Linked DNA regions of Homo sapiens: region 2 is linked to region 1. The links come from fine-mapping of genetic effects on gene expression. Tissue or cell type: nucleus accumbens. Region 1 holds a variant in brackets; the other region holds the start of a gene. All regions are shown on one strand. Distances are between the middles of the regions.

Region 1 (8,103 bases):
GGTAGGCAGAGGTTGCAGTGAGCCACTGCACTCCAGCCTGGGTGACAGAGCGAGACGCTGACTCAAAAAAAAAAAGAAATTAGCTGGGCATGGTGGCGGCCGCCTGTAATCCCAGCTGCTCAAGAGGCTGAGGCTAGAGAATCTCTTGAACCTAGGAGGCAGAGGTTGCAGTGAGCCAAGATTCTGCCACTACACTCCAGCCTGGGTGACAAGAGCAAAACTCCATCTCAAAAAAAATATATTTTATATCAGAACTAAATGTAAACATAAAACTATCAGATACTGGCTTACACCTGTAATCTCAACACTTGGGGAGGCCAAGGCTGCCGGATCACGATGTCAGGAGATGGAGACCATCCTGGCTAACACGGTGAAACCCCGTCTCTACTAAAAATACAAAAAATTAGCCGGGAGTGGTGGCACGTGTCTGTAGTCCCAGCTACTCGGGAGGCTGAGGCAGGAGAATCACTTGACCCTGGAAGATGGAGATTGCAGTGAGCCAAGATCACACCACTGCACTCCAGCCTGGGCGACAGAGCGAGACTCCATCTCAAAAAACAAACAAACAACAACAACAAAAAACTGTGAGTTAGTAGAAAATATAAGGAAATATTTAACCTAAGGGTTAAAAGACTTTCTTAAGAAAAACAGAAACCTAAAAATTATCAAGGAAAATACCAACAGATTTAACTACATAAAAATGTAAAATTTCAGAATGACAGAAGACACTTTAAAGAAAGTTTAAAGAGTCCAGGCACAGTGGCTCATGCCTATAATCCCAGCACTTTGGGAGACCAAGGCAGGAGCATCGCTTGAGTCCAGGAGTTCAAGACCAGCCTGAGCAACATAGCAAGACTCTGTCTGTACAAAAATTAAAGAATTAACTGGGTGTAGGCTGGGTGCAGTGGCTCACGCCTGTAATGCCAGCACTTGGGAGGTTGAGGCGGGCAGATCACCTGAGGTCAGAAGTTCAAGACCAGCCTGGCTAACACGGTGAAACCCCATCTCTACTAAAAATACAAAAAATTAGCCGGGTGTAGTGGCACGTGCCTGTAGTCCCAGCTACTTGGGAGCCTGAGGCAGGAGAATCGCTTGAACCCGGGAGGCAAAGGTTGCAGTGAGTTGAGATTGCACCATAGCACTCCAGCCTGAGCCTAGGCGACAGAACAAGACTCCGTCTCAAAAAAAAAAAAAAAAGAATTAACTGGGTATAATGACACATGCCTGTAGTCCCAGCTACTAGAAAGGCTGAGGTAGGAGGATTGCTTGAGCCTGAGAGGTTGAGGATGCAGTGAACCATGATCAGGCCACTGCACTCAGCCTAGGCAACACAGTGAGACCCTGTCTCAAGAAAAAAGTTTAAAGATATTATGGCTCAGCTAGGCACAGTGGCTCATGCCTGTAATCCCAGCACTTTGGGAGGCCAAAGCTGGTGGATCACTTTAAGTCAGGAGTTCAATACCAGCCTGGGCAACATGGTAAAACCCTGTCTCTACTAAAAATACAAAAAAAAAAAAAATTATCTGAGCATGGTGGCACGCGCCTGTAATCCCAGCTACTCAGGAAGCTGAGGCAGAAGAATCTCTTGAGCCCAGGAAGCGGAGGATGCAGTGAGCTGACATTGTGCCATTGCACTCCAGCCTAGGCGACAGAGAATAAGACTCTGTCTCAAAAAAAAAAAAAAAAAAAAAAAAAAAATTATGGCTAGGAGAAAATATGTGCAACAGGTAAGACAGGTAAAATGCCAATAAGTTATGACCAACCAAGAAAAAGGTCTAATATTCACCCCTAAGCATGGGGAAAATTGACACATTAATTTAAAATTAAATGCAAAATAGGATATTCAGCTTCTCTCAGAGAAATGCTAAACAATGAGAAATCATTTTCTACCCATCATATTGAAGAAAAGGTAAGAGATTAATTGTGATATTGGCAAGGAAGTGAAGGAACAGGCACGTTCATGCATTTACTGATAGAAGCATAACTGGCTCTAACCTTTCAAGAAAGTAATTTGGTGGTATCTTTTTTTGTGATGGAGTCTCCCTTTGTTGCCTAGGCTGGAGTACAGTGGCACGATCTTGGCTCACTGCAAACTCTGCTTCCTGGGTTCAAGCGATTCTCCTGCCTCAGCCTCTCCAAGTAGCTGGGATTACAGGTGCATGCCACCACGCCCAGATAATTTTTTTTTTTTTTTGTATTTTTAGTAGAGACGAGGTTTCACCATGTTGGCCAGGCTGGTCTCAAACTCTGTTTTTTTGTTTTGTTTTGTTTTTTTGAAATGAAGTCTAGCTCTGTCACCCAGGCTGGAGTGCAGTGGCGTGATCTCGGCTCATTGCAACCTCCACCTCCCAGGTTCAAGCAATTCTCATGCCTCAGCCTCCCCAGTAGCTGGGATTACAGGCACCCGCCTCCATGCCCAGCTAATTTTTATATTTTTAGTAGAGACGGGGTTTCACTGTGTTGACCAGGCTGGTCTCGAACTCCTGACCTCATGATCCGCCTGCCTCAGCCTCCCAAAGTGCTGGGATTACAAGAGTGAGCCACCATGCCTGGCCAGGTCTCAAACTCTTGACCTCAGGAGATCCACCTGCCTCAGCCTCCCAAAGTGCTGGGATTACGGCATGAGCCACTGCACCTGGCCTGGTGGTATCTTAAAATTTTTAAATATGTGCACTTTTTTTTGTTGTTGTTGTTGCAGGAGGAGGGTCTTGCTCTGTCGCCCAGGCTGGAGTGCAGTAGCAAGATCACTGCTCACTACAGCCTCAACCTCCCTGGCTCAAGTGATCCTCCCACCTCAGCCTCCTGAGTACCTGGGAAGACAGGCAGGCACCACCATGCCCGGCTAATTTTTTTTTATTTTTCGTAGATACAGAGCCTTGCTATGTTGCTCAGGCTGGTCTCAAACTCCTGGCCTCAAGCAATCCTACCACCCCGACCTCCCAAAGCCCTGAGATTATAGGCATGAACCACTGTACCTGGCCATGTGCACCATTTGATACAGCAATTGATTGCTCTTTAGGCATCTATCTGCCAGAAATAAAATTACCTAAATTCTAATGTTATTTTCTGCTTGTATTAGTAAAAACTGAAAATGGCCATCAATAGCAAATATAGGCTGAGTATCACTTATTCCAAATGCTTGGGAAATAAGTATTTAAAATTTCAGATATTTTTTCAGATTTTGGCATATTTTCATGCCTAATTCAAAAATTCAAAAATCAAAATGCTCAGGGACCATTTCCTTTGAGCATTATGTTTCTAATTTGGGG[T/GT]TTTTTTCAGATTAGGGATACTCAACCTATAGTTAAATGAATTGTAACATCTACTTATTGTGGATTTTTTTTTTTTTTTTTTTTTTTTTTTGAGATGGAGTCTCGCCCTGTTGCCCAGGTTGGAGTGCAGTAGTGCAATCTCAGCTCACTGCCACCTCCAACTCCCGGATTCAAGTGATTTTCCTGCCTCAGCTCCTGAATAGCAGGGACTACAGGCACGCATCACCATGCCTGGCTAATTTTTGTACTTTTAGTAAAGACAGGGTATCCCTATTTTGGCCAGGCTGGTTTTGAACTCCTGACCTCAGGTGATCCGGCCCATCTCAGCCTCCCAAAAGTGCTGGGATTACAGGTGTGGGCAACTGCACCCAGCCTATTGTGGAATATTAAGTATATTTTAACAAATGAGACATCTTCCCGTATGTCCTACAGGGATGTCCATGGTAATAAGTGGAGGAGGGGTAGAGATGGAAGAGGGAATAAAACTATGGAGGAATGTATTATGGCGTGATCCCATTTTTGTCACTTTTTTGGAGGAAAAACCCTAAATATGTGTGTACAGGTGTATATACGGTTGAAAGAGCATAGAAAAATCTGTGGAAAAATATACATGTAACCTACACAAGCATATTACAACCAGCATGATTAGTTTTGAAATAAAGTTTTCAGCCAGTCACGGTAGCTCATGCCTGCAATCCCAGCACTTTGGGAGGCAGAGGTAGGCGGATCACCTGAGGTCAGGAGTTCGAGACCAGCCTGGCCAATGTGGTGAAACCTCATCTCTACTGAAAATATAAAAATTAGGCCAGGCGCAGTGGCTCATGCCTATAATCCCATCCTTCTGGGATGCCAAGGCTGGTGGATCACTTGAGGACAGGAGTTCAAGACCAGCCTCGCCAACATGGTGAAACCCCATATCCACTAAAACACAAAAAATCAGCTGGATGTGGTGGTGGGCACCTGTAATCCCACGTACTTGGGAGGCTGAGGCAGGAGAATCACTTGAACCAGGGAGGTGGAGGTTGCAGTGAGCCAAGTTTGCACCATCGCACTCCAGCCTGGGCAACAAGGGCGAAACTAGCGAAATCTGTCTCAAAAAAAAAAAAAAATACAAAAATTAGCTGGGCATGGTGGTGGTGCCACCTGTAATCCCAGCTACTCAGGAGGCTGAGGCAGGAGAATCGCTTGAGCCTGAAAGGCAGAGGTTGCAGTGAGACGAGAGCACGCCACTGCACTCCAACCTAGGTGACAGAGTGAGACTCTGTCTCTAAATAAATAAATAAATAAAGTTTTCAAAAGCATATGAAAATACCAATTTAATAAGCTTTTTGGAAAATTTAAAGTGAAACTGCACTTTTATTCTCATTCAGATTCACTTTCAAAGATCTCTTCTGCCCTGCCCTTTAGAAATTGTGAGAGGCTTCCCTGGGTCTTGGAAGTTGAGATCTTGAACTTTTTCCCTAGCATGACCAGTGCTGTTGCCAAAATGCCAGGGGTTTGGTGTAGGTCCTGCCGCTTGCTGCACAGAAAGCCAATCAGTAGTGCCAGGGAAGAAGGCTTTAATTGGGTGCTCCAGCCAAGGAGATGGGAGATCAGTTTCAAATTTGTCTCCCTGACCAACTAAAATTAGAGGTTTATATAGGAAGGAAGAAATGTAACTACATGCAGTAAAACAGGAATTAGGGAGGGGTAAGGAAGAGGAGTTGATCAACAGGCAGCAGGTGGTCTGTTAGGCCATTATGACAGATGAGGGGTTCTGCATCTCATTGTCCAAATGCAGTGATCTGGTAAGTTTCAGTTCCTTGATACCATCTGGGAGGCTTGATGGTTGATTTCCTGAGAAAGGAACTCAGATAAGGCAAATGTCACTTTCTCAAATTTCAAGACTGGAAAGGTCAATTTGTTTCTCTTTTTGCTTTTGCTTTTGTTTTGTTTTGAGACAGGGTCTCACTATGTTGCCCAGGCTGAAGTGCAGTGGCTATTCACAGGCGTGATGCCACTACTCATCAGCACAGGAGTTTTGACCTGCTCAGTCTCCGACCTGAACTGGTTAACCCCTCCTTAAGCAACCTGGTGGTCCCCCACTCCCAGGAAGTTGATGCTAAACTTAGTGCAGACACCTGATTGGCATAGCGCACTACAGCCCAGAACTCCTGGGCTCAAAGGATCCTCCCGCCTCAGCCTCCCAAGTAGCTGGGAATACCAGCACACTCCACCACACCAGGCTAGAAGTGTCAATTTCTATGTTTATTCAAAAGAAACCATAAACATCTGCTCTATGAAAGAACTGAGTCAGTTTCAGTACCTTAGCAGGTGACACAGACTCTGTTGTGAGAACGGAAAGCCCAGGAAAGAATTGTAGATTACTGGTTTCAAGCTGTCTTATACCTACCTCAGGCACTAGGAGGCATGGAGAGTTTGCAAGGAAGTGATGAGGAGATTTAAAAAGAAAAGGCAGAAGAGATGGAGAGTGGATGGAAAGCTCCCAATAAAGAGAGGCTGGCCAGGCGCGTTGGCTCATGCCTATAATCCCAGCATTTTGGAAGGCTGAGGCAGGCGGATCACCCAAGGTCAGGAGTTCGAGGCCAGCCTGGCCAAAATGGTGAAATCCCTTCTCTACTAAAAATACAAAAAATTAGCTGGGAGTGGTGGTAGGTACCTGTAATCCCAACTACTAGGGAGACTGAGGCAGGAGAATCACATGAACCCAGGAGGCACAGGTTGCAGTGAGCCGAGATCGCACCACTGCACTCCAGCCTGAGTGACAGAGTGAGACGAGAGAGAGAGAGAATAGGAATGTTTTGAGCAGAGCAGTTACTTCTTGCTGCAGTTCCTTTTCCCCAGAACAGTCAAAATGTGCTGGCCCTTACTTTTCTTCACGTCCCTCTCCTCCTAGGCTGGGATCCAGGAGCCCCAGGACTTGGTGCCACTAAAATAACTGCCGCATTTTTTTTTCCTTGAGTTTCATGGCATGGATCACAGATTTCAGCTTTGAATCTTTGAATGTTTTGAATGTTTCAGCTTTCAAATGTTTTGCTTTTCTCCAAATAGCCTAAGCTATAGTGAACCATAGAAGGGCAATGAGCAAGCCATCATACCCAAACATTTCTAAATCAATCCATTTTCCATCATGACTCAGTACATGTATACATCTGTAACAGAGTGCAGTGGTGCAATCATAGCTCTCTGCAGCCTAGAACTCTTAGGTTCAATCAATCCTCCTGCCTCAGCCTCCAGAGTTGCTGGAACTACAGGCTTGTGCCACCACGCCTAGCTAATTATTTTAACTTTTTGTAGGGACAGGGTCTTCCTATGTTGCCCAAACTTAATCTACTATTTTGTTTGTTTGTTTGAGACAGAGTCTCGCTCTGTTGCCCAGGCTGGAGTGCAGTGGGGCAATCTCTCCTCACTGCAATCTCCGCCTCCTGGGTTCAAGTGATTCTCCTGCCTCAGCTTCCCAAGTAGCTGGGATTACAGGCGCCCCCTACCATGCCCAGCTAAATTTTTTTTTTTTATTAGAGACGGGGTTTCATCACAGTGGCCACGCTGGTCTCGAACCCTTGAACCCAGGTGATCCACCTGCCTCAGCCTCCCAAAGTGCTAGGATTACAGGCGTGAGCCACTGTGCATGGCCTTAATCTACTATTTTTTGTGGCAATAATTAGATGCTTAATTCTCTAAGTAAAAATTAAATCCAATTCCAAGGTTTGCAAAGCATACTAAGTATACCCAAACATCTTCAGAGAAACTATGCTGAGCAATTTCTTTACCGTATTTTGCCCAAACACAGTAATGAATACAGCTGAATATTCCCTGCATGTTTTGCTAATTTCATACTTTCCGTCAGTACACAGAACATGGCAACTGTGTGTCTCAAGTGTTTTTCAGACATCGTCTGACTTACCGTAACTGTCTGCATAGTAGACCTGGTATTATGCATCTTACACAGATGGAGAATTTGAAGTTAAATACGGGCCCAGGTGCACAATTACATTTCAGGGCCCAGAATTTAGGTATAAATGTTGGACTTAAAGAGTGCTGTTTTATTTTTAGAACACTAATTCAGTAAATAAAGCAGCAGACATGGGCTTATGATTCATTCACCTTATTTGTGAAAAGAAAAGCCTAATAACCTCAGCTTCTTTGTCAAGTGGTTTAGCAAGTCACATCAAGAGAAAAGGAAAGCGCTGGGTGCGGTGGCTCATGCCTATAATCCCAGCACTTGGGAGGCTGAGGCAGGCATATCACTTGAGGTGAGGAGTTCGAGACCAGCCTTGCCAACATGGTGAAATGCCATCTCTACTAAAAATACAAAAATTAGCCGGGCGTGGTGGTGGGCACCTGTAATCCCAGCTACTTGGGAGGCTGAGGCAGGAGAATCGCTTGAACCTGAGAGGTGGAGGTTGGCGTGAGCCAAGATTTTATCACTGCACTCCAACCTCGGTAACAAAGCAAGACTCGGTCTCAATTAAAAAAAAAAAAAAAGGAAAGGAAGCTGGGAAAAAATGCAATGAGACTAAAAGTTACTAAAAAATAGCCCAAACCTTTAACAAAAGAAGCTTTGAGGCCAGGCGGTGGCTCAGGCCTGTAATCCCAGCAAGTTGGGAGGCCAAGGCAGGCGGATCACTTGAGGTCAGGAGTTCGAGACCAGCCTGACCAACATGGAGAAACCCTGTCTCTACCAAAAATACAAAATTAGCTGGGCATGGTGGCGCATGCCTGTAATTCCAGCTACTCGGGAGGCTGAGGCAGGAGAATTGCTTGAACCCGTGAGACGGAGGTTGCGGTGAGCTGAGATCACGCCATTGCACTCCAGCCTGGGCCACAAGAGTGA
Region 2 (8,103 bases), 870 kb after region 1:
TGAGCATCTGTGAATTTTGGTATACGCAGGGGGTCCCAGAACCAATCCCCCAAAGACGCTGAGAGATGACTATATTTATGAAGCTAATAAAGTATTGTTATATTACTTTATTGAACAAGTATTTGCTGAATGCCTACTGTGTGCCAGATGCAATGCTAAGCACTAGGTGAACAGACACTGGTCCCCACCCTCCAAACAAGTAAACATACATTTATTATTGCAACTTGTAATTATTTGAGGGAAAGTAAATCAAGGTACTATGAAAGACAAAAAGAACTTATGTTAGTTAGACTTACTGAAGACGAAAGGCAACTTTGAAAAGGGACACAACCTTCAAGAACAGGTGGCCAGGTGTGGTGGCTCACGCCTGTAATCCCAGCACTTTGGGAGGCTGAGGCAGGCAAATCACCTGAGGTCAGGAATTCAAGACCAGTCTGGCCAACATGGAAACCCCGTCTCTACTAAAAATACATAAATTAGCTGGGCGTGGTGGCACACGCCTGTAATCCCAGCTACTTGGTAGGCTGAGGCAGGAGAATCTTGAACCCTGGAGGCACAGGTTGCAGTGAGCTGACATTGCGCCACTGTACTACAGCCTGGGTGACAGAGCAAGACTCCATCTCAAAAGCGAACTAAAAAAAGAACAATAAAAAGAAGAGAACAGGACGAGGGCGAGGAGGAAAGTATACCAGACAGAGGGTACCACAACGCAATGGTCCTCAGGAAGTGCTTAGAAGGTTAGAGGAGAAGGAAATACCTGTCAGTGGAAAGTGTGTGTCTGGGAGGTTGGGAGAGTGGCAAGTGGTAAGGCTGGGGAGTAGGTGAGGTTTTACAGGGTCTTGCAGGTCCTGGTAAGAGATGGAGATTTTCTCTAAGTACAATGGAAAGTCAATGAAGGGTTTTACCCAGGAGCGACATGTTCCAATCATTACTTAAGATCACTCCAGTTGCCATGTGGAGAACAGAATGGAGGCTGGGGAAGAGTGAACACTCAAAGGCTATTGCTTAATCCAGCCCAGAGGTGATGGACTACAAAGCTAACATTGGAGATGGTGAAAAGTAACTGCATTCAAAATATATTCTAGGGTGGAAACAACAGGACCACTGATGGACTGGATTTAGGGAGTGAAGAGAGAGGGCTAGATTTTTGGTCTATGCAATTGGATAGATGATGAGAAGAAGGTTAGAAACATACCTTTGAGAACCATCAGCACATAGATGGGTGAAATGACAGAGTGTGGAGAGAAAGGGTCCCAGGACTGAGCCCTAAGATACCACTCAACACTTAGACATCAAGCAAGAGAGGAACGGGACCCAGGGAAGGACACTGAAGTAGTCCTTGATGTAGGAGGAAATACGCAAAGGAACATACATCACAAGAAAAGGAAAGTTTCTAGAGTTTCTGTATTAACCACTGCTGAGAGATCAAGAAAGTTGAGGCCAGAAAATCAACCTCTGAATTTGACAAGATGGAGGGATCAGGTTTTTTTTTTTTTTTTTTTTGAGACAGTCTTGCCCTGTCACCTAGGCTGGAGTGCAGTGGCACAATTTGGTTCACTGCAACCCCTGCCTCCCGAGTTCAAGCGATTCTCCTGCCTCAGCCTCCTGAGTTACTGGGATTACAGGCGCCCACCACTACACCCAGTTAATTTTTGTATTTTTAGTAGAGAGGAGGTTATGCCATGTTGGCCAGGCTGGTCTCAAACTCCTGACCTCAGGGGATTCGCCCACTTCGGCCTCCTAAAGTGCTGCGATTATAGGCATGAGCCACCACGCCCCGCTGGTTCAGGTAATCTTAACAGTCATTCCCGTAGACCAGTGAGGATGAAAGCCCAACAGAATGGCTGAGAGAATGAGGGGCTAATCAGCACTTTCAAGAAGTTTTGTTGGGATGGGAAGCAGAAATGGAGTAAGAGGGGGACATGTATGTGGGGACGGAGGATTTTCTAAGATGAATTCTCTAAAGCAGGGTTGTATGCTCACAGGAAATGCTCTAGTAAAGAGGGAAAAATTAGTAATGATGGCTTGGACTAGAGTAAATTATATGAATAGTTTTTTAGGTTGCAGATGAAATCCCATCAGTGGGTTGCAAAATTAATTCAGTGGTTCAATTTTTTTTTTTTTTTTTTTTTAAGACAGAGCCTTACACTGTCACTCTGGCAGGAGTGTAGTGGCTCTATCTCAGCTCATTGCAGCCTCCTGGGATCAAGTGATCCTCCCATCTCAGCCTCGTAAGTAGCTGAGACTACAGGCATGAACCACCACACCCAGCTAACTTCTTAATTTTTTGCAGAGACAGGGTCTCCCTATGTTGCCCAGGCTGGTCTCCACCTCCCAGGTTCAAGTGATCCTTCTGCCTAAGCTTCCCAAAGTGCTGGGATTGCTGGTGTGAGCCACCACGGTTGGCCCCATTCATATTAATAAAAAATAGACAATATGAGAGTGTACGCCACACATTATTGTTTCATGAGCCTTTCATTTCAGTTACACAGACATATTGTGTTTAAAAAAAAATCGGAAGAGGCCAGGTGAAGTGGCTCACGCCTGCAATCCCAGGACTTTGGGAGTACAAAGCAGGAGGATCACTTGAGCTCAGGAGCTGGAGACCAGCCTGGGCTGTAGTGAGACCCTGCATCTACAAAACTTTTTTTAAAAAATTAGCGGTGAGTGATGGCGTGGGCCTGTAGTCCCAGCTACTGAAGAGGCTGAAGCAGGATTGCTTGAGTCCAGAAAGTGAGGCTGCAGTGAACCATGATTACACCCCGCCTGGGGGACAGAGCAAGACCCTGTTTCTTAAGAAAAAACAATTAATTAAAAATGTAAAAATGTGAAATGCCATAGTACATATAACCATTAAACATGAGGCAAAAGAACATAAAGGAAACTGTATCAAATAATCAGTTCAAAGAGAACACAAGATAGTAATACCTACAAATTAATATCAACCGTATAAAGCCCACATTCAGAGTAGATGCAAAATCTTCCATTTGCACCAGGCGCAACGAGCAAGCATGGAAAAGACCACGTGGAGTTAAACTGTCAGAAAATCTTTTACCCTCGCCTTGCACACACACCCACACACCCCCTGCTGTTTCTCTGGTCCCAGTCCTGGTTCACGTCCTTCCCTTCTCCACCCCAAAACCAGCCCCTTCCCTCACAGTGTTTACTGCTCCCATCAAATTCCGAGGGCAGCTCTTCCGAGGGCTCTCCAGGGGCCTACAGCTGCAAGCAGAGCTCTACCCGGCCCTGATTCGTCTCTCCTCCACCTACTTTCAGGGCGGACAGACTCAGGCCTTTATAGCCTTCTAAGTCCGGGGTCGGATACCAGACTGGGCTCCACCCCCGCACTGTGACCCAGAAACGCTGGTAAACGAATGAGAGAAGGAGGGGGCACATTGAAAGGCAGCCGGACACGGAAGTGCTCGGCCCCGCACCAGACACGGCGTGGAGGGGAAGCGAAGGTTCGGAAGGGCAAAGCGAGAGTCCCGTTCGTCCCCGTCACCACCCCGCGGCCCTCCCGGACAGGGCCGGCCCGCTGCCCTCACTCCCGTACGAGGGTCGCCCAGTCCCCACGGCTCTCGGCTCTCAGCTCTCAGCGGTCAAACCGTTGGGCTCCTCGGGCGAAAAGGGACGCGCCCGAGAAGACTTACACTTCCATGACGTCCCGCCTCGTCGCCCCTAGCTGCCAGCAGACAAAGAACCTCACACTTCACAGCTGTCTCCGCCGCCACCAACAGCGCCAAGGTGCCAGCTCCGCGCGCCAAGGTGCTCGCCGGGATCGCCGCGCTGCATGCCGGGAGCTTGGCGGACCCGGAACCTCGCGCTGCGCGTTCCCCTTTTTCGGGGGGCAGGGTGGGGGAGTGTCCCTGCATCCTTCCACCAGGCCGATTTAAGACTGCTAAGCGTTTGCGGACAGGATTATCTTGTGTTTTCTTTTCTTTTTTTCTTTAACCTTTTTTTTTTTTTGAGACGGAGTCTCGCTCTGTCGCCCAGGCTGGATCTCGGCTTACTGCAACCTCCGCCTCCTGGGTTCAAGCGATTCTCCTTCTGCCTCAGCCTCCCAAGTAGCTGGGACTACAGGCGCTTGCCACCAAGCCCGGCTAATTTTTTGTGTTTTTAGTAGAGACGGGGTTTCACCGTGTTAGCCAGGATGGTTTCAATCTCCTGACCTCGTGATCCGCCCGCCTCGGCCTCCCAAAGTCCTGGGATTACAGGCGTGAGGCACCGTGCCCAGCCTCTTTTTTTCTTTTTTGAGACAGAGTCTCGCTCTGTCACCCAGGCTGGAGTGCAGTGGCACGATCTCGGCTCACTGCAATCTCTGCCTCCCAGGTTCAAGCAATTCCCTGCCTCAGCCTCCCGAGTAGCTGGGATTACAGGCGCCCGCCATAACGCCTAGCTAATTTGTGTATTTTTTAGTAGAGACGGGGTTTCATCATCTTGGCCAGGCTAGTCTTGAACTCCTGACCTCGTGATCCACCCGCTTCGGCCTCCCAAAGTGTTGGGATTACAGGCGTGAGCCACCTCGCCGGGCTCTGTCTGTTTTCGTGGTCTAGGTTTTAACAAAGTATTAATCAGCTGAAGTTGTGAGACGTGATCGGGTTAGTGGGCCTTTGCATGTTAAAATCCCACCTCTCAGAGAGTAGTGAGGCTGGTGGCATCTGGGCTGCCAGAAACATTGCAGTTTATTTATTTATTTTTTAAGAGACAGGGTCTTGCTCTGTCGCCCAGGCTGGAATGCAGTGGTGCAATCAGAGCTCACTGCAGCCTTGAACTCCTGGGCTCAAGCAATCCTCCCACCCCAGCCTGCCAGAGTAGCTGGGACCACAGGTGCGCTCCGCTACACCTGGCTAATTTTCTTTTTTTCTTTTTCTTTTTCTTTTTTTTTTTTTTTGAGATCAGTCTCACTCTGTTGCCCAGGCTGGAGTGCAGTGTCGTGATCTCGGCTCATTGCAACCTCTGCCTCCTGGATTCAAGCAGTTCCCTGCCTCAGCCTCCCCAGTAGCTAGGATTACAGGTGCCCGCCATAATGCCCAGCTAATTTTTGTATTTTTTTAGTAGAGACGGGGTTTCACCATCTTGGCCAAGCTGGTCTTGAACTCCTGACCTTGTGATCCACCCTCATCAGCCTCCCAAAGTGTTGGGATTACAGGCGTGAGCCACTGCACCCAGCCACCTGGCTAATTTTCTAAAATAAAATTCTTTATTGTCCAAAGAGTCAGCTACAAAATTTTTTAATTTTTTTGTAGAGATGGGGGTCTCACTGTGTTGCCCAGGCTGGTCTTGAACTCCTCGCCTCAAGTGATCCTCCCACCTCCAACTCCCAAAGTGCTGGGATTACAGGTGTGAACCACCACAATAGCCTCTGTTGCCTACTTTGTAAATAATAAGGGTGTTAAATAATCCTTATAAAGTTCCTGGCACTTTATTAATTACTGTGGCAATACAACCATGACTCTCTATGAGGTACATTGCATTATTATTGACATTTTATAATTGAAGAAACTGAGGCAGACTTGGAGAGATTATGATTTACCAAAAGTCACTCATCTAGGAAGTTGTCCAGTGGGTATTGAACCCCAGCCAATCTGAACATATACAACAGATGCATTAACTAGAGACTGATGAGTGGATGAATAAAATGTGCTACATTTGTGCAATGGAAAACTACTTAAAAAGGAGGCTGGCCGGGCACGGTGGCTCACGCCTGTAATCCCAGCACTTTGGGAGGCCGAGGCGGGCAGATCACGATGTCAGGAGATCGAGACCATCCTGGCTAACAGGGTGAAACCCCGTCTCTACTAAAAATACAAAAAAAATTAGCCGGGCGTGGTGGTGGGCGCCTGTAGTCCCAGCTACTAGGGAGGCTGAGGCAGGAGAATGGCGTGAACCCAGAAGGCAGAGCTTGCAGTGAGCCAAGATCGTGCCACTGCACTCCAGCCTGGAAGACAGGGCAAGACTCTGTCTCAAAAATATAAAAATAAAAAGGAGGCCAGGCTTGATCTCAGCACTTTGGGGAGCAGAGGCAGGAGGATTTCTTGAGACAAGGAGTTCCAGAGCAGCCTGGGCAACATAGCTAGACCCCCTAACTACGAAAAGTTAGCCAGGTGTGGTGGTGAGCACCTCTAGTCCCAGCTACTGGGGAGGCTGAGGTAGGAGAATCGCTTGAGCCAGAAGGTAGAGGCTGCAGGGAACTATGATCACACCACTGCACTCCAGCCTACAGAGTGAGAGACCTTGTTGCAAAAAATATATATAGACAGACTGATAGATAAATGCTGCAAGATGGATAACCTCCCAAAACATGATGCTATTAATAAGTGAAAGAAGCCAGACACAAAATAATATATATTGCCTGGCCAGGTGGCTCACGCCTGTAATCCCAGCACTTTGGGTGGCTGAGGTGGGTGGATCATCTGAGATCAGGAGTTCAAGACCAGCCTGGCTAACATGGGGAAACCCTGTCTCTACCGAAAATACAAAAATCGCCAGGCGTGGTGGCTCACGCCTGTAATCCCAGCACTTTAGGAGACTGAGGCAGGCAGATCATGAGGTCAGTAGTTCGAGACCAGCCTAGCCAACATGGTGAAACCCCGTCTCTACTAAAAATACAAAAAGTAGCTGGGTGTGGTGGGGGGCACCTGTAATCCCAGCTACTCGGGAGACTGAGGCAGGAAAATTGCTTGAACCCAGGAGGCGGAGGTTGCAGTGAGCCGAGATCACGCCACTGCACTCCAGCCTGGGTGACAGAATGAGACTCCTTCTAGAAAAAAAAAAAAAAGAATACATATGGTATGATTCACTTTATATAGAATGTCCAAGAAGAGGCCAATCTATGGATACAGACAGAAGGCTAGGTTGGGGGCAAGGATGGGAAGTGATTGCTAATAAGTAGGGAGTTTCTCTTTGGGAAACAGAAATTGTCTAAAATTATTATAGATGGTGGTGGTGGTTGCACAACCCTGTGAATATACTGAAGACACTGAGTTGTATACTTTAAATGGCATATTGTACAGCATATTAATCCTATATTAATAAAGCTGTTAAACATTTTTTACTCTGCTGAGTGTGGTGGTCCACACCTGTAATCCCAGCACTTTGGAAGATGAAGGCAGGTGGATCGCTTGAGCCCAGTTTGAGACCAGCATGGGCAACATGGTGAAACCTCATCTTTACCAAAAAAATAGAAATTAACCAGCTTGATGGCTCGTGCCTGTAATCGTAGCTACTCAGGAGGCTGAGGCAGGAGCATCGTCTGAATCTGGGAGGCGGAGGTTGCAGATCACGCCACTGCACTCCAGCCTGGGTGACAGAGCAAGACTCCATCGCAAAATAACGACAACAAAAAAGTCATAAAATGCCACCCAGACCCAGCTGGCCTAGTTAGTGTGGAGAATTCCCTGTACCTTCGCTGAGGAGATTGGGCCCCACAAAGAAATGCTAAAGATGCCCCTTGTGTTATTCACTCAACAAGTATGTAGCCATGGCCCATCGGGGGCTGATGATACAAATGTGACTAACACACACCCTCTGCACTGGCTAGCTGACAGCCTAGTTGAGGAACCAGCTCTGGACATAAATAACCACAATGCATTGTGTTTCGACGCGATGGGCAGGGGAGGGAATGACTAATGAGGTGGAGAGGCGTCCCAAAGCCACGGGCCTTTGAAGTGGGTGAGGGAAAAGCACACGAGGCCGAGGGATTGGGTATGGGCTTCAGTGAAAAACAGCAGTGCCTCTGACAGCCCCCATGATAAAATGGCTCAGGTGTGACTTAGAGTAGGGAGTTAGCTGGGTGTTCGAATGATACCCGGTAGGCCAGGTGCGGTGGCTCATGCCTGTCATCCCATCATTTCGGGAGGCCAAGGCGGGTGGATCACTTGAGTCCAAGAGTTCAAGACCAGCCTGGCCAACATGGTGAAACCTCATCTCTACTGAAAATACAAAAATTAGCCGGGCATGGTGGCAGGCGCCTGTAATCCCAGCTACTCAGGAGACTGAGGTAGGAGAACCACTTGAGCCCGGGAAGCGGAGGTTGCAGTGAGCCGAGTAAACATTCTTTTTACTGTCTGCACCTCTGGTCCTGGATAGTCGCTGATCACCATG

Direction of the effects. Positions count from the first base shown, and alleles are read on the strand shown. Sizes are in standard deviations (SD) of each study's normalised expression.
As copies of T replace GT in region 1, the expression in nucleus accumbens of the gene that starts at base 3,774 in region 2 goes up (moderate effect, 0.66 SD a copy in GTEx).

What was found. PIP is the estimated chance that this variant, and not a neighbour inherited with it, causes the effect.
Region 2: CRCP starts here. The variant in region 1 is fine-mapped to the expression of CRCP in nucleus accumbens (GTEx, PIP above 0.99).

What each region holds. Positions count from the first base shown.
Region 1 is chr7:66,977,512-66,985,614 of GRCh38, reverse strand. It overlaps the pseudogene RN7SL43P. Among named protein-coding and RNA genes, the nearest start is that of SBDS, 14 kb to the left of the region's middle. The variant T/GT (reference allele first, on the strand shown) is at 3,270.
Region 2 is chr7:66,110,518-66,118,620 of GRCh38, reverse strand. CRCP (CGRP receptor component) reads right to left here and starts at 3,774. Exons shown (of 6, transcript NM_014478.5): 1 at 3,651-3,774. The coding sequence starts at 3,658. RefSeq lists silencers at 2,985-3,279, 4,708-4,898 and enhancers at 2,866-3,394, 3,932-4,061.